7 linked regions of the Homo sapiens genome follow. The protein of the gene in region 6 purifies or fractionates together with the protein of the main gene of each other region. This does not show direct contact. Each region holds a gene or a part of one and is shown on either strand. Other genes may lie near its edges.

The links.
Region 1: the proteins of SVOPL (region 6) and PCP4 purify together in Homo sapiens (affinity purification with mass spectrometry; one large-scale study listed by BioGRID and IntAct). This does not show direct contact.
Region 2: the proteins of SVOPL (region 6) and RTN2 purify together in Homo sapiens (affinity purification with mass spectrometry; one large-scale study listed by BioGRID and IntAct). This does not show direct contact.
Region 3: the proteins of SVOPL (region 6) and ASCC3 purify together in Homo sapiens (affinity purification with mass spectrometry; one large-scale study listed by BioGRID and IntAct). This does not show direct contact.
Region 4: the proteins of SVOPL (region 6) and ARFGAP3 purify together in Homo sapiens (affinity purification with mass spectrometry; one large-scale study listed by BioGRID and IntAct). This does not show direct contact.
Region 5: the proteins of SVOPL (region 6) and GAPVD1 purify together in Homo sapiens (affinity purification with mass spectrometry; one large-scale study listed by BioGRID and IntAct). This does not show direct contact.
Region 7: the proteins of SVOPL (region 6) and EIF5B purify together in Homo sapiens (affinity purification with mass spectrometry; one large-scale study listed by BioGRID and IntAct). This does not show direct contact.

The regions. Positions count from the first base shown.
Region 1 is NC_000021.9:39,926,438-39,929,892, reverse strand, and holds the end of PCP4 (calmodulin regulator protein PCP4), read right to left. Parts: intron 910-3,455; coding exon 782-909; 3' UTR 501-781; downstream 1-500. UniProt on the Homo sapiens protein: Functions as a modulator of calcium-binding by calmodulin. Thereby, regulates calmodulin activity and the different processes it controls.
Region 2 is NC_000019.10:45,490,548-45,494,047, forward strand, and holds part of RTN2 (reticulon-2), read right to left. Parts: intron 2,832-3,500; coding exon 2,613-2,831; intron 1-2,612. UniProt on the Homo sapiens protein: Inhibits amyloid precursor protein processing, probably by blocking BACE1 activity. Enhances trafficking of the glutamate transporter SLC1A1/EAAC1 from the endoplasmic reticulum to the cell surface.
Region 3 is NC_000006.12:100,507,694-100,511,011, forward strand, and holds the end of ASCC3 (activating signal cointegrator 1 complex subunit 3), read right to left. Parts: intron 2,415-3,318; coding exon 2,239-2,414; intron 1,841-2,238; coding exon 1,693-1,840; 3' UTR 501-1,692; downstream 1-500. UniProt on the Homo sapiens protein: ATPase involved both in DNA repair and rescue of stalled ribosomes. 3'-5' DNA helicase involved in repair of alkylated DNA: promotes DNA unwinding to generate single-stranded substrate needed for ALKBH3, enabling ALKBH3 to process alkylated N3-methylcytosine (3mC) within double-stranded regions.
Region 4 is NC_000022.11:42,854,474-42,858,766, forward strand, and holds the start of ARFGAP3 (ADP-ribosylation factor GTPase-activating protein 3), read right to left. Parts: upstream 2,801-4,293; 5' UTR 2,710-2,800; coding exon 2,641-2,709; intron 1-2,640.
Region 5 is NC_000009.12:125,348,826-125,352,325, reverse strand, and holds part of GAPVD1 (GTPase-activating protein and VPS9 domain-containing protein 1), read right to left. Parts: intron 2,937-3,500; coding exon 2,807-2,936; intron 2,032-2,806; coding exon 1,922-2,031; intron 1,614-1,921; coding exon 1,454-1,613; intron 1-1,453. UniProt on the Homo sapiens protein: Acts both as a GTPase-activating protein (GAP) and a guanine nucleotide exchange factor (GEF), and participates in various processes such as endocytosis, insulin receptor internalization or LC2A4/GLUT4 trafficking.
Region 6 is NC_000007.14:138,659,863-138,663,362, reverse strand, and holds part of SVOPL (putative transporter SVOPL), read left to right. Parts: intron 1-217; coding exon 218-289; intron 290-3,374; coding exon 3,375-3,499; intron 3,500-3,500.
Region 7 is NC_000002.12:99,364,889-99,368,388, reverse strand, and holds part of EIF5B (eukaryotic translation initiation factor 5B), read right to left. Parts: intron 1-3,500. UniProt on the Homo sapiens protein: Plays a role in translation initiation.

The sequences.
Region 1 (3,455 bases), on a different chromosome or scaffold from region 6:
ACCACGTGGCAAATCACAGCATAGAGGAAGTTGGGGAGTTTAGAGAGGGTGCCAGTACCCTGGAGCCACACAGGTGCAGAGCACTGCAGGTAAGCTGCAGAATGGCCTATAACAGGCTAGAGTGTCCCCTTTGGAGATCTGAAATGGGTCTGCTGAGTAAATCTGGGGATGCTCCAAACACAAATGCATCACCTTCTCCCATTTTGTTCTCCTGAATCAGTCATAATTCCCCAGGGAAACTTCTGTCTTTGGCACCCGAGGATACAGGGCTCTATTCCCATGATAAGAAGAAAATACGTTGCCATCGCCAGCCAGCACTTAGGACTCTCCAAATGAGGCAAGCATGGCTGAAAATGGATCTCTCACTCTCAGCAAAAAAGCTCCTAACAGAAGACAATGTGTTACATCTCTGACTCCTAAGAGAAAGAAATAGACACCTGGCTCACAGTCACCTCTAACATCGGGTAAAATAAAGAGAGAAAGAAAGGCAGTCACTTGAATTCACTCATCGTAACTTCATTTTATTACAACATCAAGGAAAATAGTTGCAGGAGGAATGAAAATGGAGAGAAACATAGAGATTAAGCTACTCACAATTCCATTGTCTATACCTTCCTACAAGGGTATAAATATCACAGGTTTCTGTACATGCATTGGAGGTTTGCTATGCGTGTGTGGATTGTGTGTGGATGACTTCTCTCTAGGGTGTTGTTCTTTTAATTTCTTGACAGATGATGGTTGAATTTGGTGTTTTCAGGTGGACTAGGAGGGGGTTCTCCCACTAGGACTGAGACCCAGCCTTCTTCTTCTGGAATTTTCTGAACTGAGACTGAATGGCCACCGCTGCACGTTCTGTCTCTGGTGCATCCATGTCAATGTCAAATTCTTCTTGAACTTTCTTCTGTCCATCTGTAGCAAGACAAACACAAACAGAAGGCAATCACTGAGCTGAAAATAGGAAAGCAGACAGCCCCACTAGATAAGTGAAGCCAGGAAGTCCACCTTGGGGCACACACAGGGGCTTAACTTACACCCCAGGACAAGAGCTCATCTGCAAAGTAAAATCCAGTGGAGTGTTTTGACAGAGCTCAGAATCTACCACCTGAGCAGGACAATGAAACTCAAGGACACAGTCTCAACACTTCATGTATTTTCTGCACATGATTTTCTGTTCTCAGTGACCATCTTGATATATGGTTTTAATACTGGCTGTGCTGTTACTTTCTCCTGCTATCTCACAGAGGTACCATTTAATATTGCTAAGATATTGGTCCAATGATAGCTGATATTCACAATTACTGAGTCAGCAGAGTCATATACTGAGTTTCCGTGTATAATTCTGTGTGTCATTCTCAGGAAAGATTTGCTTATTGCAATCAGGGCTTCCATTTTTATCATCGTCAAGATGGGATGACACCATTTGACCTTCACAGTTCGACTGAACTTTCACAAAGCTTACATTCTTGTTCCTATGAGGTAGACTTGGCAAATGGCTTGCTGAGGTGGAGGGATTTCACCAATTCACACGGTGACAGGACACAAAGTGGGGGGTGGTGAGGAACGAAGGCTTGGGCCTCTGTGCTGTATACCTTACCACAGCACAGGGCCAGTGCAGCCAAGACGGAAAAACAAATAAATCAATAAAATTCTTCAGTCGTGGAAGGTAAATGTCTTTCAAAAGCCTCTAGTCTGATGAGACCCGGCGTGTTCAGGGTGGTATGGCCGTAGAGTGTATAGTGTATGCTGCTCAGGTGATGGGTGTATCAAAATCTTACAAATCACCACTGAAGAACTTACTCATGTAACCAAACACCACCTGTTCCCCAAAAACCTACAGAAATAAAAAACTAAAATAAAATAATAAATGCCTCTAGTCTGATGAAGGCTAAACATCAGATTCATCAAAGGCATCGTTTTTCTTTTTCTTTCTTTTTTTAAATACAGGCATGAGGGTCTCACCCCAGACTCAGGGCTTCCTCCTTGCACAGCCGCAGTGGGAAGGGTGCTCCTAAGAGCAAGATGGATGTTGAGAAATCCGTGTCCCTGTGGGGAGGCCAGACATCTACACTTCTTTTAAAAAGACTCTCAGGTGTGGCCAGAATTGAGATCCAAGGACAAAGGAGGCCTTGGAGTTAGCTCAAGCCAGAACTGGGGACAGAACTGACCTCTCCTGGGACCTGGGCCAAGAGCCTCGCTGCCACCCTGGGCTTGCACCTAGAGCAGAGGAGGCCAGCCCTGTGAGGAGCACAGCCAACTTGGAGATGGGAGAACTGGAGGCATTCTGAGGCAGAGGAAAAGCCCCAGCCAGTGAGCAGGGAGTGGGGCTCTATTCCTGAGTGTCACCAGGCAGCCTGAGTTCATCATCCACTACCTTGTTTAGGGACTTTGCATAATAATGCTCAGGCACCAGCTCTATCAGAGAGGGTGGAGGAAGCTGGGGTTCCTTGAGGACTTGAGGTAAGGCCTGCCTGTTCTATCCTGCTTGCTCTAGATAGATGATGATAGATAGATAGATAGATAGATGATAGATAGATAGATAGATAGATAGATAGACAGATAGATAGATAGATGATAGATAGATAGATAGATAGATAGATAGATAGATAGATAGATCAGAGAGACAGACAGACAAACATAAGTAGATGATAGACAAATACAGATAGACAGGTAATAGATAGATGAGAATCAGCACTTATTTCAGATGCATCTGCAGAGCTGTAAGCAGCCTCCTCTCAATTTTCCTAGATCCTAATCAGTTTCCACCTGGGACCCTTCAATCATCCTCTCACCTAGGAGGAGGGAATGTCAGCTCTGGCTTTGGAAGCCTTGTAGGACTGATGGAGCCATGACCCAAATCAGAGAACTGTTGTCTTCTATTTCAAACTTGCTGCCAATGCTCATAAAAGCAGAGATGTTGAGTGCACCAATGTTCAGGAATATTTCAGAGGCAGGGGATGGGGGTGCTTCCTTTTTAACCCAGGACAGCCCAAATGATAGACAAGTGGAACTGTTTCTCACACTCCAGGTAGCTATTCACATTGTCTTCTACATTGCCAGGGCCCTTTCTTTGGAGAAAAATAAGGGGTAGGATCACTGGGAGAAGTAAAAGTTTCCTGTGGCTCAAGTAGATGTTTTAAAAGTGGTTAATTAATGTTATCACATGAGCCTGGGACTGGAGGTCAAGTGTCTAGCAAACCCAGAATGCAAATGGCTCCAGTGTTTGTGCTCATGGCAATAAACCCTTTTGTACCAATAACATCCTTGGTTAGGTAGCATCTACAGCACTGGGAGTTGTCATTTTTCATAAGATGGTTTATAGTCCCAAATCCTTCTACTCCCAGAGGAATCCTTGCATCAACTGTACAGTGAGTGCAAAGGGGAAAAATTCACTCCTGATTCCAAGTAGGAGGGGAAGTTTCCCTTTTAAATGTAAAATGTTGCTGGAATCTGAAGTT
Region 2 (3,500 bases), on a different chromosome or scaffold from region 6:
TGTGTGTGTGTGTGTGTGTGTGTTTTGTTTTTGTTTTTATTTTTTTTGAGACGGATTCTCGCTCTATTGCCTAGGCTGGAGTGCAATGGCACAATCTTGGCTCACTGCAACCTCCGCTTCCTGGGTTCAAGCAATTCTCCTGCCTCAGCCTCCTGAGTAGCTGAGATTACAGGAGGGCTCCACCACACCCGGCTAATTTTTTATATTTTGGTAGAGATGGGGTTTCACCATGTTGGCCAGGCTGGTCTCGAACTCCTGACCTCAAGTAATCCTCCCACCTCGGCCTCCCAAAGTGTTGGGATTACAAGCGTGAGACACCACGCCTGACCTTGGTTTGTTTGTTTGTTTTTTTTTTTGAGACAGAGTTTCGCTCTTGTTGCCCAGGCTGGAGTGCAATTGTGCAATCTCGGCTCACTGCAACCTCCACCTCCCGGGTTCAAGCGATTCTCCTGCCTCAGCCTCCCGAGTAGCTGGGATTACAGGCATGTGCCATCATGCCTGGCTAATTTTTTGTTATTTTTAGTTAGAGATGGGGTTTCACCGTGTTAGCCAGGATGGTCTTGATCTCCTGACCTCAGGTGATCCACCCACCTTGGCCTCCAAAAGTGCTGGGATTACAGGCGTGAGCCACCACGCCCGGCCACATTTTTTTTTTTTTTATTTTTAGAGGCAGAGTCTCACTCTGTCACCCTGGCTGGAGTGCAGTGGCGTGATCATGGCTCACTACAGCCTCTACCTCCCAGAGTCAAGCAAACCTCCTACCTCGGCCTCCTAGCAGCTGGGACTACAGGTGGCACCACGATATCGTGCTAATTTTTTTTTTTTTTTTTTTGGACAAAGTCTTCCTCTGTCACCCAGGCTGGAGTACAGTGGCATGATCTCAGCTCACTGCAGCCTCTGCCTCCCGAGTTCAAGAGATTCTTGTGCCTCAGCCTCCCAACTAGCTGGGATCACAGGCATGAGCTGCCATGCCTGGCCTGGCTAATTTTTTTTTTTTTTTTTGAGGCAGAATCTCGCTCTGTTGCCCAAGCTGGAGTGCAGTGGCGCGATCTCAGCTCACTGCAAGCTCTGCCTCCCGGGTTCACGCCATTCTCCTGCCTCAGCCTCCCGAGTAGCTGGGACTACAGGCGCCCGTCACCATGCCCGGCTAATTTTTTGTATTTTAGTAGAGACGGGGTTTCACCATGTTAGCCAGGATGGTCTCGATCTCCTGACCTTGTGATCTGCCCACCTCGACCTCCTAAACCTGGCTAATTTTTAAATGTTTTGTAGAGATAGGGTCTCGCTATGTTGCCCAGGTTGAATTCCTGGCTTCAAGTGATCCTCCCACCTCGGCCTCCCAAAGTGTTGGGATTACAGGCATGAGCCACCGCGCTCGGTCATATATATTTTTTTAATGTCATAAATTTTGAAACACTGCTTACTAGTAAGACCATAACAGTTCTTATTTCCACAAGAAGCAAGAGAAAGATCTTTTCCCAGCATCCTGCCCTGCAGTGGGTTGCAGTTCTTTTTAACTTTTGCCAATCTGTCAGGTGTAAAGTGATATCCCCTTGATACCCTTAGCAACACATGTTTCTAAGTCCTAAATGTATTAATCACGCCATACTCCTTTCCAGGGCCTAACTCAAATTTCTGACCCCTTTCTGAGACCCTAAAACACACCTCCTAAACCCAACCTCAGCCCTGACCAGTGACCTTTGTACCCCAACCTTCATCTCATCTGTCTAAACTTTAGGCTCACTCCTGTAATCACAACACTTTGGGAGGCCGAGGCGGGAGGATCACCTGAGGCCTGGACAACATAGTGAGACCCTGTCTCTACAAACAAAATAAGAAAATTAGCAGGGCGTGGTGGCCTGTGGCTCTAGTCCCAACTACTTGGGAGGCTGAGGTGGGAGGATCACTTGTGCCCAGGTGTTGGAGGCTGCAGTGAGCTATGATCCCACCACTGCACTCCAGAAAGGGCGACAGAGGGAGACTCTGTGGCTTAAAAAGAAAAAGAAACTTTAGTAATCTGCTTTCCTTTGAGTCCTGAAAACCAGGAACTCAGTACCTTTCTATTTCTTTCCAGATCCTCTCTATCCTCCCACACTCCCTCCAACTGACCCCTCCGACCGGTCCCTCTTAGAGGCTCACCCCTCACTTCCGTCTCCTTCCAATGCATCTCCTCTCATTTACCTCCAAATAGGGCAGCCCCTCCCTCCCCATAGCAGGGCCCTCCCAGGCAGGCTCCTAGTGGCCGGCGCCGGTGGATGGGGGAGGGGCCAGGTCGCCTGAGGCGGGGGCTAAGTTTAGGCACGCTGGGGGGAGGGGGCCTCCCCGCAGCTGTTCTGGCCCGTCTGGCCCCTGAGTGACAGCGCTGCCTGGGGCCGAGGCTGGGGGAGGGGGTCCTCCCTGCTCCTGGGCCCCAAAGTGCTGGCTCGAAGGAGAAGGGACCCCATGCTCCCTCTGGGTCCTCCCTATACTGCCCCTCGGCCCCCTAGCCCCAGCCTGCAGCGCTGCGGAAGCAGATCAGTAATAAAAATGCTCCGGATGTGCAGGAGATAAGGGCGAGTTTGGACCCCGTTCCGCCGACCTCAGCCCCCGTCCAGCCCGTTCCGCAAGCCCACCTTTACTCCCCATATCGGCTCCGAGTGAGAGGCTGGGGACACCGCTGCTTCTCGGGGATTTTGCCCACTTCAGTAGAACCCGGAGGACAGGAGTAGGGGGGGTGGGGCCCCTTTGGACCCAGCCAATGGCTGTCCACAGAGGTGGGGACAATTCCAAAATTGGAACCGTCTTGTAAACAGCCAAAAGCAATGATGTCTTTAACCATTCCATAGCTGTTCCTGGAGGCGGAGCATATTTTAAAGTAAGGCTGGGTCATTTTACAACTGGCCAATAGATGTGGTCAGGAAAAAGAGGGTTTTTGTTTGTTTTTTCAAATAGAGATCGAGTCTCCCTATGTTGCCCAGGCTGGTCTTGCACTCTTGGCTTCAAAGGATCCTCCCGCCTCGGCCTCCCAAAGTGTTTAGGATTACAGGCATGAGCCACTGCGCCCGGCCAAAAAGAAGAGTTTTTAAAAGGCACAGAGTTTACTTATAAATATTCTACGGCCACATCTAAATAAGGAGAGAACTGTATTTTTTCAGGGATTTGGCCTGTCCAAAATCAGCCACTAGGAGGAGCACTCCAGAAGAGGGAGGATTATTTTATTTTATTTTTATTTTTTGAGACGGAGTCTCGCTCTGTCGCCCAGGCTGGAGTGCAGTGGCGCGATCTTGGCTCACTGCAACCTCTGCCTTCCAGGTTCAAGCGATTCTCCTGCCTCAGCCTCCCGAGTACAGACGGGGTTTCACCATGTTGGCCAGGCTGATCTCGAACTCCTCACCTCAAGTGATCCGCCCGCCTCGGCCTCCCAAAGGGCTGGGATTACAGGCATGAGCCACCGCGCCCGGCCGGGGAAATTTTTTTAAAAAGCGGAGTTTATCACGTCTAGCCAGATGTGATATCACGTC
Region 3 (3,318 bases), on a different chromosome or scaffold from region 6:
TTTGTTGAGTAATGAGTGTGGATAAAGTTGTAGATAGTGTCGGTCACTCATTGGAATAAGATTAACTTAAATTTGTCACATTATTTCTCTTCTCTCTAAAGGGGACAACAGAAATACTTTCTTATTGTTCCTATGTCCTGTGTCGTATGTCCAGTGAAGGAGACTCCCCAAGTTGGCTTGCTCGCTAACAAAAAGGAATGATGTTGGTAAACATGGAATCAGTGAGATTGTTACTCCTCAGGTTCCTGTATGGACTGGTGATTGTTATCTATATATAATCTCCATTTTCTTTTAATTCTACTAAAACAGTGGTTAAGATATAAATTCCAATTAGGTAATAAACTTTGCCAAAGAAAAAACAGAGAGAACTCTTTATATGAAGTAAATTTCTCAGACTAGAGTAATTGGGACACCTCATTCTCACTATACTTGGTTTGCTCACAATAGTTATTTCGATTTAATTTTTGGGAAGTGAATAACTGGTTCCCCTGCAACCTACATTTATTTCTTCTTCTTTTTTATTTAAGCATGGAAAAGGATATATACAAGCAATACATTCCAATTTCAGAAACACTTAAATTCTAGTATTTGTAACAATGACATTGGAAAATGTTTTAAAATAATTCATTTTAGGGCTAAGAAAACTGAAATTATTTCACAAAGGTAGAATTTCATTCCACTAGAATGCATATTATATGAACATTGAATTTTAACAAGTTTTTAGTTTGAAAAAGTATTTTTCAAGAAGGAATTTGTTTGGACATAGAGAAATTTTCTTTATTACAGGTGAAAACCTATCCATAGGGGTGAAAAATTTTCTGTCTCAGATTTTTCCTGGAGAGCATAAAGACAAATAATTGTACTATATGATCTGTAAGTGCTACAACATGAATTAGATTATACTTCTCTACTTCTGTAAATAAATATGTCAGAAAGATAATAGAAATAAAGCCTTGAAGTAGAAGGGAAAGAAAAGAAGAACAGATGAGTAAGGGGATATTATTTAAAGGAAGCAGAAGAAAACATTGAGTCAGCTTGTCTTGAAGTGCCACTCTATATTTTATTTCCCAGTTAACCATGTCTACATTTTCTAAGATCAGTATATTGTTTTCTTTGTTATCATCATTAGGCTCCATAATATAATTTTACATCATATATTATTAAACATTTATGACTACAAGAAATTCTTGAAGCTACTTCTACATGTGATCATATCAAAGTATAAATTTTGCTAACAAGACACGCTGTGTACCACCTTACAGATTTATAGTTTATGCGGCAGAGTTAGAAATCTGTGACAAGTCCTAACACTTGTCACATCTCAATGTGGTTTTCCTTAAAAAAAGCAGCCAATATCCATGTAAACAGTACATTGTGAGATGTAAAATTTGATTGATAGCTCCTAAATATCATCCCAAATATACACAAATTAAAAGATTATTCTAAATGCTTTTTCATCTTACATATCAAGAAACTCATAAAGATAACATTATAAAAGGCAACATTTGTTAAAAGGCCACTGTGGTTAACTTTATGTCACTGGAGTCAATACTGCAGCCACTGTCAATTTCCTGGATGGTTGAGGTTAGAAGTTGATTCTTTCAAGGCAAACATCAAGTAATTCGATTTGTCTAGATGACTGAACAGAGAGAATTCTTAGCCACTCCTTTCAAATGGATTGTTCAGGTCAAGTTACTTTAATGCCAGGTCAGTCAGGGAATCAGAGACCTTGGTGTTGACCTGTGCAGAAAGACTCGCTTGTGTAACGTTGAGATAGATGTCATACTGCTGGTCCAGGCCAAGGTAGCAGTCACTCATGAAATATAATGTGTAGATATACCTAAAATATAAAAATAGAAGAAAAATGTAAAACCACTTTTGTAATCACAATCATATTTAATTCTTTCAGAACTTTGGTAGTAGGAGGCTGGGTGCGGTGGCTCACGCCTGTAATCCCAGCACTTTGGGAGGCCGAGGCGGGCGGATCACGAGGTCAGGAGATGGAGACCACGGTGAAACCCCGTCTCTACTAAAAATACAAAAAATTAGCCGGGCGCAGTGGCGGGCGCCTGTAGTCCCAGCTACTCGGGAGGCTGAGGCAGGAGAATGGCGTGAACCCGGGAGGCGGAGCTTGCAGTGAGCAGAGATCGCGCCACTGCACTCCAGCCTGGGCGACAGAGCGAGACTCCGCCTCAAAAAAAAAAAAAAAGAGAACTTTGGTAGTAGGATTCTTCTTACCTTCCAGGTATTTCAGGGGTATAAAAAGAAAGGGAAGCAACATGATGATTTCGAATATATCCTACTCTTTTCAAAGCAATAAGTTCTCTCTTATCCACTTCTCCTAATATCAAAAACCATCCTTCGTCTTTTGATTTGGGAAATCGAGGAGTAACTGCACAGCTCTCTGGCTTTCCCTGTAAACCAGAAAAAAAGATACAACATTAAAAATATCTAGACTTCCTATACCACTTGGTTGTGGTTAAGGCTACGTTGTCTTACTTGAAGGCCATACATCTACATAGTTCAGCATATCTATCTGAGATGTTTTAAATTTTCTTCCATTCTGGTTTGGTGTCTTTGATATGCAATTATTTAACTTACTTCAAGATTCTCAGAGCATATTATAGACACTAGTTCGTAGTTGTAACTATCAGAATATATGGCCAGTTAGAATAAAAAACTCTGGATCTTGACATCAAATTAGCAAATTCTCATGCTATTCCTACAATTAACTTTAATACCACATTGGTAGATGAACAAATTGAGACATAACCATGTTAATCAAATCTTCCAAAACCTTATTCACCAAAAACGAATGCTTAAGAAAACAAACAAACAAACAAAAACACAAAGCCAATCAAGACTAGACTCTGGACCCCAAGATGATGAGTACTATATCAAACACATACTTTCCCCCTCATCCAAGAATAAAACTCACATAAAAAAGCACATATTCTAATATGGTAACATTAAAAAGTCCCTTCTCTGAGGAATGGGCAATTTTAAGTCAAGCAATTTGTAAAATATATTAATCACCACAATCCAAAATTAGATATAAATATAATGATCGCACTTGAGGTCTTTATTTTAGATCAATTTTTATAAAATGCAAGATTATTCTAATGATTCTTTAAGACAATGACTTTATGGCATAAAATATAGTAATAATGATACATTCTCAGACTTCACTCAGTATTCTAGAGGGAGATGTTTCACTTACAGTATTTCAAAAGGGAGTCAGAGAGTAATATATTTTTACAGCATTCAGAAACAAAAATTAAGAGATTTTCTGGCATGATTAAATCTAAGCTTTAAGTA
Region 4 (4,293 bases), on a different chromosome or scaffold from region 6:
AATTAGCCATGCGTGATGGCACACGCCTGTAGTCCCAGCTACTCAGGAGGCTGATGCAAGAGAATCGCTTGAACCTGGGAGGAGGAGGTCGCAGTGTGCCAAGATCGCACCACTGCACTCCAGACTGGACAACAGAGCTAGACTGTCTCAAAAGAAAAAAAAAAAGAAAGAAAAAGAAAAAAGAGAATTGACCCTCATGACCTTTGATCTAGAGTAAATCATCATACATGAGACGAAGAAATTGGATACCATGTTCTAAAAGTAAGCCGACTTGTTTTTCTTTGATTACCTTTCCTGGCTCATGTATCTTAGAGCTGTCTTTTATGACCCCAATTTTAAAATGCTATTGTTATCTTCGTTTAGGTAAGGGTTTCAAACCAATGATCAAATAAAAGGTCTCAACCAAGAAATATAGCACATTACTGTTAAACATTACCAGAAAACATTTTTGCTCATTGCTTTTATTAATCTTATTACAGAATATAAATTTTTCACAGGTGTGTTCTTCATCATAAAAACAGCTGCCATTTATTGAAGACTATTATATGCAGTTCCTACTCTAAGTGTTTTTCTTGGATTATTCCATTTAATCTTCACAATAACCCTCTGAGTCAGGTCTAGTTCATGCCCCATTTTCAGAGGAGGAAAAAAGGGACAAAGTGGTCAAGTAACCTGTCCAAGGGTGACATACCTAGAAAGTAGCAGTTTGGACAATACAAGCCTGTCTCTCAAAAGCCTCTTGATATAAAGACATTGATTTCTAATTTAAAATTATCTTTGAATTAAATCAAAGAGAATACATGTTGATGTTTCTGAGATAAAGGTGACAAAAAAATATAGTTTACACATTGCTAACCGCAGATCCTAATCTTGACTAAGTTACACAGGACCCACTCTTTATAAACACATCAATCTAAATTTAAAAATCAAGGCTGGGCGCGGTGGCTCACGCCTGTAATCCCAGCACTTCAGGAGGCCGAGGCGGGTGGATCACTTGAGGCCAGGAGTTTGAGACCAGAGTGACTGACATGGTGAAACCTCGTCTCTACTAAAAATATAAAAATTACTTGAGTGTAGTGGTGGATGCCTGTAATCCTGGCGACTCAGGAGGCTGAGGCAGAATTGCTCAAACCCAGGAGGCAGAGGTTGCAGTGAGCTGAGATCGCACCACTGCACTCCAGCCTGGGCGACAGAGCAAGGCTCTGTCTCAAAAAAATTAAAATTAAAACGTTAAAAAAAAAAAAAAGAACATTAAGGCCAGCATGGTGGCTCATGCCTGTAATCCTAGCACTCTGGGAGGCCAAGGCAGGAGGAGGCAGGAGGACTGCTTGAGCCCAGGAATTTGACACCAGCACGGGCAACATAGCAAGACCCTGTCTCTACAAAAATTAATTAATTAATTAATTAATAATAACAATTAGCTGGGCGTGGTGGTACAGCCCTGTGGTGTCAGCCTCATCAGGAGGCTGGGAAGGAAGGATGGCTTGGGCTGGGTAGGTCAAGGCTGCAGTGAGCTAGGATCAAGGCACTACACTTCAGCCTGGGTGACGGGGTGAGACCCTGTCTCTAAAAAAATAAATAAATAAAAATGTGAAAATCAAGAGAACAGTAAAGAAACGGGCACTGGAGAATTCCTGGAGCCTTTCTCTTAACTTTCCCACATCCATCAGACATCACCTCCAATAAACTGTTTCCTTCCTCACCTAGGCTGGAAAAAATATGGGCTCCCCTGTACCATCAAGACTTAAAACCAACAGAAACACCTATTTTGTAACACTCGGGAACTTTCTATGCCAGCATATCGAGGTTCAATAACAGCTGTTCCCTTCGGGAAGTGACAGTGGGAACCAGACAACACTCGTGTCACAGGAGGGGCGGGGAGAGCCCACGCTGACGCGACAGCCCTTTGCACTCTCCAAGTCCCTCTCCGACCCGACGTGTCACCTTAGCCCCCTGCGTCACCCCAACGCCTCCAGCCAGCTGCGCAAAGCTGTAAAAGTTCCAGGGAGAGAACAGCCTCTGGAGACAAAAAAAAAAAGGAAACCTCCATCTCCAAAGAGAACCGAGGAGAGGGAGGAGGCTGTGGTGAGCCTCCCTGGCCAAAGCGACAAAAGCTGGAAGCCAAAGCGTAGACTACTCGGCAACTTTATCAGAAGAGAAACTGAGGCAGGCACCGCAAGGCCCGAGGAGCCAAGCCGGCTCCAACAGGCGGGGTCGAGCTCCAGGGTGGCGCTGGGGGAGCCGCGCTTTCCCCGCATCCGGCGCCAGCAGCCGGGGTTTCCGAGCCGGGAGCTCCCTCCTCGCAGCGCCCCCGAGGATGCCCCCGCCCCCGCCTCCGCTCAGAGCCGCCGGTGCTCGCCCCCCGCCCCAAGAGCTCGCCGGGGGGTGTGCCCGCGCCGCCGCCCCCGGGAACGCTCCCCGGCTCGCGTGAGGACCCCCGCGCTGCGGCCTCCCGCCCGGGCCTCTCAGCTGCCCGGCCCCGCCCGCCCCGGCCCGGCCAGGCTGCCGCGGCCCCACAGTGCGACGTGTCACAGGCCGCGCCGGCCCCGCCTCCCAAGCCACGGGCACTGGCGCCCGCGGGGCCTCCCGCCGGTTCCCGCAGGGATGCCAGGCAGGCCCGCACTCGCCCGCGGCCGCTACCTTGTTAGTGGGCACCGAGCGGAGGCGCTTGAAGATGGTCAAGATGTCCTGCTTGCTGGGGTCCCCCATCGTCAGCTGTGAGCCGCGGCGCAGCTGGCCCAGCCAACCGGTAAGAGTCGACGAAAAGCGGCTACCGCCTCAGCAGGAGCGACGAGGCCGCGGGGGCGGGGCTGCGCGTAACGGTCAGGCTCCGCCCCAATCCCCGCCCACGACCGGGCCCGTCCACCGCCGGGGCGCAGGCGCCGCTCGCTTTCCCTCCCCGCCCTCGCTTCAGCCGCGCCGCTGGCCCGACCCCAGGCGCTGCACGCGCGTGCGCAGGAGGCTCGCGCGCCATTTGCGGCGCGGCTCCACGCCCTTAGCGCTGGGCGAAGCCGGGCCCGGGTGTGGCTGCCTGCCACGCGCGCTGCCATAGGATCCACCAACGTTTCGCCTGGTCGATCGCCATTTCGCCTAACGGGCTGCTTCCATGGAAAGGTCAGAGGCAGGGGAAGGGGCGCACGCGCCCTCCTTCGGCACGAGACGGACGGAGGGCCCGTGCCTTGACGCCGGACCTTAGCTGGTGGCCTTCCCTTTTTTTTTTTTTTTTTTTGAGACGGAGCCTCGCTCTGTCCCCCAGGCTGGAGTGTAATGGCGCGATTGCGGCTCCTTGCAACCTCCCTGGTTCAAGCGATTCTCCTGCCTCAGCCTCCCGAGTAGGTGGGATTACAGGCGTACATCACCACGCCCGGCTAATTTTTGTATTTTTAGTAGAGACCAGGGTTTCACCATGTTGCCCAGGCTGGTCTCGAACTCCTGACTTCAGGTGATCCACCCACTTCGGCCTTCCAAATTGCTGGGATTACAGACGTGAGCCGCCGCGCCCGACTCTTTTTAATTCTTGCCCTCAGCTCACGCCAGGCCCTGGGTGGAAAGCTTTCTTTGCCCGGAAACTGGCTTTCTGAAACCAAGGGCTTTTGTGTCACGTTCATGGAGAGATGGCAGTGCGGGTTGAGGCAGAAGTGCTCAGTCAGAACTGATGAGTCCAGATGAGAAGCTTGACTTTTAACCCCGGCCCTCGGGGCTGCACCCTACCCTCTGGGAAACAATTCCAGCCAGAAGAGTTTACACTCAGCAGAAGGTGCCTCTGTCACCACAATGGGTGTGGAGCCACTGGAAAGAGGTTGGGTGATAGTGAGGAAGGACAGCAGGTTTTGGCATCAAAGGCACTACCTTGGCCTCAATCCCAGTTCAGCCAGCTGCTTCCTAGCTCTGTGGCCTTGGTCAAGACACTTACCTTCTCTAAAGCATGGTTTATTTGCAGTCTCAGGGGCTCATGCCTGTGATCCCAGCACTTTGGGAGGCTGAGGCGGGAGGATCACTTGAGCTCAGGAGTTCAAGACCAGACTGGATAATATGGTGAAACCCCGTCTCTATAAAAAAATGCAAAAATTAGCCGGGCATGCTGGCATGGGCCTGTAGTCCTAGCTACTTGGGAGGCTGAGGTGGGAGGATCGCTTTAGTCCAGGAGGTCGAGGCTGCAGTGAGCCAAGATCGCACCACTGCACTCCAGCATGGGCGACAGACCAAGACCCTGTCTCAAAAAGTAAAATAAAATAAACCATGGTTTATTCATCTGTACAAAGAAATTAAAGAATCAGTGCTGAGTAGCACAGG
Region 5 (3,500 bases), on a different chromosome or scaffold from region 6:
TTTGCCGCAGGGGCAGGGTCCTCATGGGGAACCTCTGCAAGGGCAGTGCGGAAAGGAAATGTGGGATCGGAGCCCCCACAAAGAGTCCCTACTGGGGCACTGCCTAGTAGAGCTGTGAGAAGAGAGCCACTGTCTTCCAGAATTCAGAATGGCAGATCCACTGACAGTTTGCACCGTGCACCTAGAAAAGCCAGCAACTCCACACCAGCCCATGAAAGCAGCCAGAAAAGTGGCTATACCCTGCAAAGCCACAGGAGCGGAGCTGCCTAAGACCATGGGAACCCTGGCTGGGTGTGGTGGCTGACACCTGTAATCCCAGCACTTTGGGAGGCTGAGTTAGGTGGATCACTTGAGGTCAGGAGTTCAAGACCAGCCTGGCTAATATGGTGACATCCCATCTCTACTAAAAAATACAAAATTAGCCAGGCGTGGTGGCGCATGCCTGTAATCCCAGCTACTTGGGAGGCTGAGGCAGGGGAACTGCTTGAACCCAGGAGGCAGAGGTTGCAGTGAGCCAAGATCGCACCATTGCACTCCAGCCTGGGCAACAAGAGCGAAATTCCATCTCGGGGGAAAAAAAAAAAAGAAAGACCATGGGAACCCACCTCTTGCATCAGCGTGACCTGGATGTGAGCCACGGAGTCAAAGGAGTTCATTTTGAAGCTTTAAGATTTGACTGCCCTGCTGGATTTCAGACTTGGATGGGGCCTGTAGCCCCTTTGTTTCTGCCAATTTTTCTCATTTGGAATGGCTGTATTTACCCAATGCCTGCACCTCCATTGTATCTAGGAAGTAACTAACTTGATTTTGATTTTACAGGTTCATAGGCAGAAAGGACTTGCCTTGTCTCAGATGAAATTTTTGACTGTGGACTTTTGAGTTAATGCTAAAATGAGTTAAGACTTTGGGCAACTGTTGGGAAGGCATGATTGGTTTTGAAATGTGAGAACATGAGTTGGGAGAAGCAAGGGGCAGAAAGATATGGTTTGGCTGTGTCCCCACCCGAATCTCATCTTGAATTCCCATGTGTTGTGGGAGGGACCCAGTGGGAGGTAATTGAATCAATGGGGACAGGTCTTTCCTGTGCTGTTCTCGTGATAGTGAATAAGTCTCACAAGATCTGATGGTTTTGAAAAAGGGGGGTTTCCCTGAACAAGTTCTCTTCTCTTGTCTGCTGCCATGTGAGATGTGCCTTTCACCTTCCGCCATGATTGTGAGGCCTCCCAGCCACATGGAACTGTAAGTCCAATAAACCTCTTCTTTGGTAAATTGGCTAGTCTCGGGTATATCTTTATCAGCAGCGTGAGAACAGACTAACACAGAAATCTACATCCAGGAAAATACAGCCAAGCACTTTGTAGGAAGCCTAGATTCATTTCTGAAATAAGGATAAAAAAGAAAACACTTGCAGCTAACAACTAGGTTTAAAAGCTGAACAGGTGGGGTATATTACCTGTAGTCCTCAGCAATCGAAGCCAGCAGTTTCCTACAAGTCCTATTATCAAAACGGCACACACAGCGCATTGTTTCTTGAAGTTGAGCCATTAGATTCTTATCTTGTAAATTAATTGCTTCAGCTATTTGAACTTTTAAGAAGCATACAATTTCATTGTCTAAATAAAAGATACAAGAATTCTGTTATTCTTGAGAATTTCCATGTGCTTAAATAAGCTAATTCAGCATTTGGGACGTCAATTCTGCTTTGTCACGTATCATTAGAACTAAGCTGTATTGCCACTCCCAATTAGAAAATACTTTAATAAATCATCAGTAATCAAAGTGCCCTTAAGTGATACTAATGTAAACATATTAAGTTGAACCATATGGAATTGCTGTACAGCTTCAACAGCTGAATACTGGCAATTTCATATGGTGCAACCCATAAACATAGGAAAAATTAAACGATCCTGCAGCAATTTACCTTCTGGGTCTGTGTGGTCTGGTAAACCATTCCTTGTTGAATGGGTCAGCACTGGGAAGGCAACAGAGTCCGCAGAGCAAAGAGCAAGCCTCAGTTTCTTTTTTGCATCTCTGAAAAATGAGTAGAAAATACATTAATTTCTTTATCCAGATATGGTCACATTTTACAAATATTTACTATATAAATTAATGTTACCTTAGGACTCAAATGTTTCAAACATTTTAAAGAAGATGATTCTTAACTGACACTCCACTTAAAAGAACAGGCTTTCTAATTACCCAAGGAGCCAGGTGTGCTCGGGGCAAGGACCATTCTTTAAAGCACCAGAATCAAACAACAAATCCTTTCTGACCTTTTTTCATACACTGAGTTCCATGACGGGTGCTATAAGAATCGGAAAAGCATATTATGGCAGAGTGGGAGGGACCACGGAAGTCAGAAGCTCCCAACACCCAGATTTGGAATGCCTTCTGGCACATCTCTTTAGAAACGCTGATGACGCCACAAAATAAGCTCACTACCTGACAAGAAACCCTTTCTTCTTTTTTTTTTTTTCCTTTTTCTTTTTTATAGAGATGGGATTTTGCTATGTTGCCCAAGCTGGTCTCCAACTCCTGGGCTCCAGCGATCCACCTGTCTTGGCCTCCTAAAGTGCTGGGATTACAGGCGTGAGCCACCACGCCCAGCGAGTTTTTTAAATCCTTGAATTAACACCTTTGATACATAACATCTACAACTGAAACAAAGTCTTCTTAGTAAACAGCATTTCATTTTTCTCTCCCTGCTTTATACATTTATTGACTCAAAACATCACTTGACTTGACGTGACTGCAATGGTGCTGAAAAGTCCAAACCCTAAAGTCCCAAATCCTATAAAAGAAATACCTGTAAGAGAAAGCTGAATCCTGCGGGTGGGCTGCTTGGCTTGCAGAGTCTGGGAGATCATCAGCCGAGATGTTCTGCAGTGCTTCGTCACGGGGAGAATCATGTGCACTTTCACCATCACCCATAACCTCTAAACAAAACCCACCCCCAAGAAACGGATACCCAGGTTCATTTGGAATATTATGGCACTAGTAGGTATTCAGAGCAACTCAAGAATAAATTACCATTGACTAATAATAAGAGTTCTCTGGAAAAAAAAGAAAGAAAAAACAAACTTCAAATACTTAACTGAATTATCAATAGCAACAATTATGTATCAAGAGACTAGTTGCTGAGAAGAGAGTGGTTTTACTTCTTATCCCAATACTAATGCAAAACAATGAACTAATGCAAAATAATGAAAGTTCACATTAACTTAATAAAGTTAACATCTTAGAATCACTGAACCAGAGAACTAAAAGAGGCTTCAAAAATCATTTTATACCCTCATTTTATAGACATGGACTCCTGCCCAGTCAGAAAATGGCTTGCTCTAAATTTCTTGGTTGGCCAATGGCCAAGGTTGACTATGGGTTAAGGTCTCCTGATTCTCTCTACTGGAGGTCTTCCTGCTACACCCAAGAGTGAGTCAAGGGACCAAATCACACATGCAACAAAGTCAGATCTGTGGTTTCCAAAGTTGGTTTTATGTCTT
Region 6 (3,500 bases):
GGGCAGGATCTGCCTTGTTAGGCTCCCACCAACAGGGAGCTGAAATCCTGAACATGAAGGGCCTCAGGGGCAAGCAAGACCAACGTGAAACCCTGTTCTTTAAATTAACTTCCATCCCTCCCGTATTTCCAGCCTACTTCTAGTGAAAATGGCTAACGGGGTAAAGTAACATGTAAAACCTGCTTAGAGAACCGTTTTATCTCGCTCCCACTTGCAGATGGTGTTTTTTGGCTACATGGTTTTCAGTATCCTCTTTGGCCTCCTGGCTGACAGATATGGCCGCTGGAAGGTAGGTGGGGCCTCACAGTAGCATTTGGAATTGTCTTTTGTGTATTCTTTTGGGGGCAACCTTATCACTGTTTCTCTTTAGTAGGCATCTCCCTCCCAATACCCAAGATAGAAAATGCAGACATTTCCCTCCCTGATGGAACATTCCAGGCTTATCTTCTGGACATTTTTCTCAGGGTACCTGTGCCTGCAGCTGTTCCTCTGCAGTCCAGGTGTGGAGTAAAAGGAGATGCGGGTATTATAGAGTTCTAAGAAATCTCTACCCAGAAGGATTAAAGGAAGGAAGGCCGCTAAGTGGCTCTATTTGAACTTTTAAAGGTTGGGACTTAGAAGCAGTCATGGGTTGGTTAGATGCCCCCACCACGTCCAGTTTACTGTGGTGGTGTTGAGAACAGAGGTCTGATATCAGTGGGGGCACACATCTGTTCTCCATTTATCCATATCTTCGCTTCTAATGAGTTAATAAGGGGAATGGAAAAGGCCCCTTAGCCCTTCAGAGCAGCCCTATTGGGAGGTTTTTTCCTCTGGTTTTCATTTAAATGACTAGTCCACTGCTGCAACAGCAAGCTCAGAAGAAGCTGTTCTTTCAGGACTATGTGTCATGAGTGAGTGTCCATAAAGTCTCTAACCCCCCAGAGCACCCAAGTAGGTTGGGAGGGAGCAAGTCTCCCTTAATTTTGGGGCAAGAAAACTCACCCTCAGGCACCTATCTGTTTGAAACTAGCAGGAACTGGCCACAAATGAAAAGAGAAGTCCAAATTACAATCAGTAGGAAACAGATGCAAGTTTTAAAGCCTGTGATGGAATTTTAGGACAAGAAAAAGTAAAATGACTAGTGCTGGATGGCCAAGACCATTAAGCCAAACCTGCTGCTATGAGGCAGAGGCAGAGAAAGCAGAAGTTCTCTGCAGAGCCATTTGCCTGAATGTCCCGTCCAGGGACAGAAATGGAAGCCCATGCTCTTAAATGAGAGAGTTTATAAAGAAGCCACCCAAACTGTAGACCTCAACCTAAAGGAAAGGAGGGCCAGATTCAGAAAGACTCACCCTTTTGCCCCCAGTGAAACCTCTGGAGTTAGGGGAACGCAGTGGGTTCATGCAGCAAGTTCAAGAGGAGCCTATTGGTAATTGTGGGGGTAAGGGGTGGTGTTGCTCTGAACCTTGCCAGCTATGCCAGAAATATTGACCTAAAGGAAGAAACAGAGACGAAATTAATATAAGTAGGGAGTTTATTTGGACCAAGATTGAGGATTGCAGCTCGGAAGTCATACAGTCCAGTTGCCCTGAATATATGCTCCGATTAGCAGCAGTTACAAGTGGGTTTTTTAAAGGAGGAGAGAAAAGAATTTGGGGGCACTTCCTAAGTTATTTACTAATAATTTACATTGGTTCGTTAAAATAAGGTATGCTATCAGCTGATTCTACATCTTTCTTGGTGTCACAAAATCTAAAAACATGGAGATAATGGATGAGCGTCACATTGTGCAACTTGCGGTAACCTTTTAGGTAATTTATCAGCTAGTCTGGAAACTACAGGGAAGGTAAGAAAAACAAAATGAAATACAATTACCCTGGGCATGGGTGCGGGAATGTGACCGGAGTCGCATGCTCCTGTGTCTCTGGACCTGATAAATTCTGCATACCTCACATTCCTCAGACTGTTCTGAGCCGCTTTTCTCTCTCAAGTTGATGGATGTACGGAGTTAAAACATATTAGAGTGTGGACATTTGCAGGTATAAACATAAGCAGCTACACATTTTGCTCATGTTGGTATAGCTTTGAAACTAGCTACGTGCTCAAAGTCACGTGCCTACTAAGATTAGACATCAAGACATAAATTATGTCTTCTGATTACAAACCCAGGTCTGTCTTTTCTATTTGCTTGATTTCTGGTGAAATCCTCTCTGAGCATAAACACAAATGGAGGAATCTCAAAGGAAAACATTAGTAGAATTGGCTGTATGTTTTAAAGTACATGAAATAAATAGCATAGATTCTTGTAAATTTGAAAACACGAGTATCTCAAAAAAGCACAAAAAGGCATTTTATAAAAGAAATACAAATTATCAAGAAACTTTGAAAAAACATTAAAGTACAGGAGTTATCAAAAACAAAATACATAGCAAGATATAATTTTTCCTTATCAAATATGTAAGGAAATTTTTCCTTAAAGAGTCCTGCACCGTTGAAATGGACATTTTCATGACTTGCAAGTATATAGACACCCTTACTATATATAACACCCTGTTGGTGTTAATATATCATTATTATTATATAATATTATTAAACCCTATTGGTATAATTTTTCTGACCATCAGCCTGGCAGTATGAAACATGAACCTTGAAAATATTCTGCTAACCTGAACATTTGTCTTCCAGAAATCTAGCTTGCTAAAGATATCAGAGAGGGCATAACGACTTATGTACAGATATCATCGCAGCTTATTTTAATAATGAGAAGATCTGAAACAACTTAAACTGCAACAGTAGAGCAAGGTCTTATGTATTATATTACATGTATGAAAGTACATCTTTCCACTGGAACATTTATAGCCAGCCATTAACACTTCGTTTTCTCTCATAAACAGAGAAGATAAAACAGTGTTAAGAGTTATCTTCTCTGGGTTGGACAATCAATGGTGATTTCAATTTCTTAATTTTCTTTTTTCTTCTGTATTGTTTACTATGAATTTATCCTTATAATTAAAGAAAAAGCAAATACCTTAAATGTTCTCCTTGTACTCCTCCCAACATACTGCCTCATTACGTCCCCAGCAGCCCTGTGAGTAGGGAGGACACGTTTTTGCCTTTTGATGTCCAAGTTCAGGGACCTGCCACCCATGAGGGTGGGCACAGCATGGTAGTTTTAAAGAATGGTCTGAACTTGGTAGGTCTGGGCTTCCAGACAGTAGAATGGCATGGATTGTATTGTTGGATGATTGTGAAAGACCAGTGGGCTTGCTACAGGTTAGCTCCTCAGAGAAGCAACTATCAGGATGGAAACCGAAAATCGCCTTCAGAAGTTAGGGCTTCTTCCCTCCCCGCATTGAGGCAGGTCCCATTCATGTGTTCTGCTGTTGCTTCAGATTCTGCTCATCTCGTTCCTGTGGGGAGCCTATTTCTCCTTGCTGACCTCGTTTGCTCCTTCGTACATCTGGTTTGTCTTCCTGCGGACGATGGTGGGCTGTGGTGTGTCCGGCCACTCGCAAGGG
Region 7 (3,500 bases), on a different chromosome or scaffold from region 6:
AAAATATGAAAGGATATTCATGGAAAAACTTGTATCTTTTACATATAAGGTATTTTAAAATTTACATACAGTAAAAATCCTCGTTTCACATACAGTGAGAGTTTTGATACGTGTATCACCATCACAATGAAGATGCAGAAAAGCTCCATCACTCCATCATCCTGTGCTGCTCCATGTAATCAAACCCTCCTTACCTTCTTAGCCTCTGGTAACCACTGATCTGTTCTCCAACCAAAAGATTTGCTTTTTCTAAAATGTCACATAAATGGAATCTTACGGTCTGGCCTCTATCATCATAATGGATTTGAGAGTCACTCACTCTGCTGCACATGTCAATACTTCGTTTACTTTCATTGTTGGGCAGCATTCCATTGTATGGATATATCAGTTTGCTTATCCATTCAACAGCTGAAGGACATTTGAGTTGTTTCTGGTTTTTTGCAATTATGAATAAAGCAGGTATGAACATTTTCAGACAGGTTTCTGTGTGAACATTTCTCTTGGGCAAATATTTTGTAGTGTGAATGATGAAACATAAGGTAAATATGACCTTAATTTTTATAAAGACACTGCCAGTTGTTTTCCAAAGTGGCTATACTATCTTGCATTCCCACCACTAATGCAGAAGAGTTTTGGCCAGGCGCAATGGCTCACGCCTGTAATCCCAGCACTTTGGGAAGCCGAGGTGGGTGGATCACCTGAGGTCAGGAGTCCAGGACCATCCTGGCCAACATGGTGAAACCCCATCTCTACTAAAAATACAAAAAATTGTATTATATAAAATATATATATATTGTGGTGGTGGGTGCCTATAATCCCAGCTACTCAGGAGGCTGAGGCAGGAGAATCACTTGAACCTGGGAGGCAGAGGTTGCAGTGGGCTGAGATTGCGCCACTGCAATCCAGTCTGGACAATAGCGAAACTCTGTCTCAAAAAAAGAGAGAAAAAAAAAAAAAGAGTTTCAACTGCTCTGAATGTGGTAAAGGTTTCTCTTTTTTTAGAACATTCTTTTCAGATGCGTATAGCTTTCTGGTGAAAGTGTCTGTTGATACCTTTTGCCCATTTTTAAATGAACTTATTGGTTTTCTTATAGTTGAATTTTGAGAGGTCTTTATATATTTTGGATGTTAATTCTTTCTCAGATATCTGACTTGGAGGTACTGTCTTGGAATTCTCTTGACAGTGTCTTTTGCAGAGAAAAGTTCTGAACTGGTCTTTCTCAAAATGTATCTTTTTTCCTTTTATGGTTTAGAGTCCTATCTAAGCACTCTGCCTAACACAAGATATCCTCCTATGTTTTCCTCTGAAAGTATTATTGTATATTTTACATTTACATATGATACCCATTTGGGTCAATTTTTATACAGTGGGAATTAAAACTGGTTTTGGGTTTTTCTGCATACAGATGTCCAATTGTTCTAGTACCACTTGCTACAAATACTGTATTTTATCCACTGAATTACCTTTCACCTATATACTAACCATGTATAGACTATTTATCTGTTTGTCTATCTTTCTGGCAATATCACACTGTATTAATTCCTATAGCTTTATACTAAGTCTTGAAATCAGGTATTCTAAGTTTGTTCTCCTTTTTCAAACATATTTTGGCCATTCTAACTCTCTGGTCTCTTCATATCCATTTTAGAACTAGTTGACAGATAGCTACAAAATACCATGCTGTGATTTTGACTGGGATTGAACTGAATCTACAGATTACTGGATTACTGACTCAGTCTCTCACTATGGGCAGAAGCCTTAGAATAAAGACAACAGAAATTGTATACCATGGGATTTTGAATGAAGTCACTAATAAAGGAAAATGACTAAAAATGTTATCTCTAACGTAGGAATGTATATGGATGTGTGTTGTGCATGTACTGAAGAATGGCTAGAATGGTAAAACCATAGCTATGACTGGTAAGACGAATACATTAAACAAACCAAAGAAAGAGGATAAAGCCAGCTGAGAATGCAGAGATCATCACTTTAAGTTTTCCTTGCCTAGCAGCCTACACCTACTAAGATGAAAAGCATGGGCCTGAGGGGAAACTGTAGGCTGGATTACCTGAAGGGTGGTCCCAATAACACCCTAGACTTAATCAACTGACTACTGCTCTAGTCTCAGACTCTCAAATAAGCTGCTGTACTTGGAATCAACACCAAGACTTGTATGTGTTTAGACATTCCATTCACTTTGCAAACTGAGACATAACAATCAAGTTCTTGAAGAAGCTCTTTGCCTGAAATGAGTTTATTACAAATTATTGATAAAGTACTCATATATGTGTGTGTGTGTATATGCTTAGTAGTCACAGGCTAAAGGATGACTGAAAAGTTAACCTGCTGCACATTTCAGAGCAATTATATGAAGACACCTGCAGATGCCTACACTCTCTGAGAGTACATTTTTAGCTCAATGAATAAGTTTTACAATATTCTAGGTAATAAATGTGGTAAGCAGCTGTCTTTCAAACATACGATGAAACAACACTGTAGGATCTTTTAATGAGATGACTCACATGAGTGGGCTGTGGGTGGGGGGGAACCTTGAATGTCAAGCTAAGGAATTTGGATTCTTATTAGTAGACAATAGGGAACTAATAAGATGGTAAACACTGGACAACACTATGAAGAGTAAGAGACCAGCGTCAGGGATGCCACTTGAGAGAGCATCTCTTACAAGCCTAATGCTAAAGACTGATGCTAAAAGTCCACCATTCTACACTGTAATTTCCATAACTACAAGTCTAACTGCTCCTTAAAACAGCATTTTTGAGACTGGCAAATTACTCCCTGCTTGGTCCCATCTGAATTTCTTCATGGGTGCTTTTAGCCTCTCCAATAGTCACCAATGAAATCTGATGTATGAATGCTAACTATATTCAAGTTTGTACCTAATTTCATTTAAAATTTTACAAAAGCTATATTCTCCATTAAGAATAAAACTTTCTAAAATCTAAGTACTGGGTTTCTTCACATCTAATGTTCCTAGCTGAACATATGCGTAAGAAAAAGTTGCACAGACCAGCTTAAATTTCAGCTCTGTGGCCTTGGGTAAGCTGTTTACACTCTGAACCACCATTTCTTCATCTATATGATGGAAGTAAAAATAGCTATAAGATTTTTTTATGAGGGAAAAATAGACAATGTCAAAGACATTGTAGCATCAGTTACACACTAAGCACACAATAAATGGTAGCTATTACTGTAATTATAGCATAAACACCAAAATGACTGTAATATAAAAATCTAGGGAATATAGGAGCAGGAAATTTAAGAGAGGTCCCAATATATTCTTCTCATTGGAGCAAAGACACTATTTTAAATCACCTTACCTTTCAAAAAAGTAATAAATTATATGCCCAGTTGTGATCTCTAAACACTATTACCCTCTAAAAGGAACAAAAGCTCTTTGGATAAACAACCGATTCCAGGTCTCAGCCCATGCAAGATGAACCTGGGATATCTTGTTGCATCAGAAAGTAAGGAAAGGGTT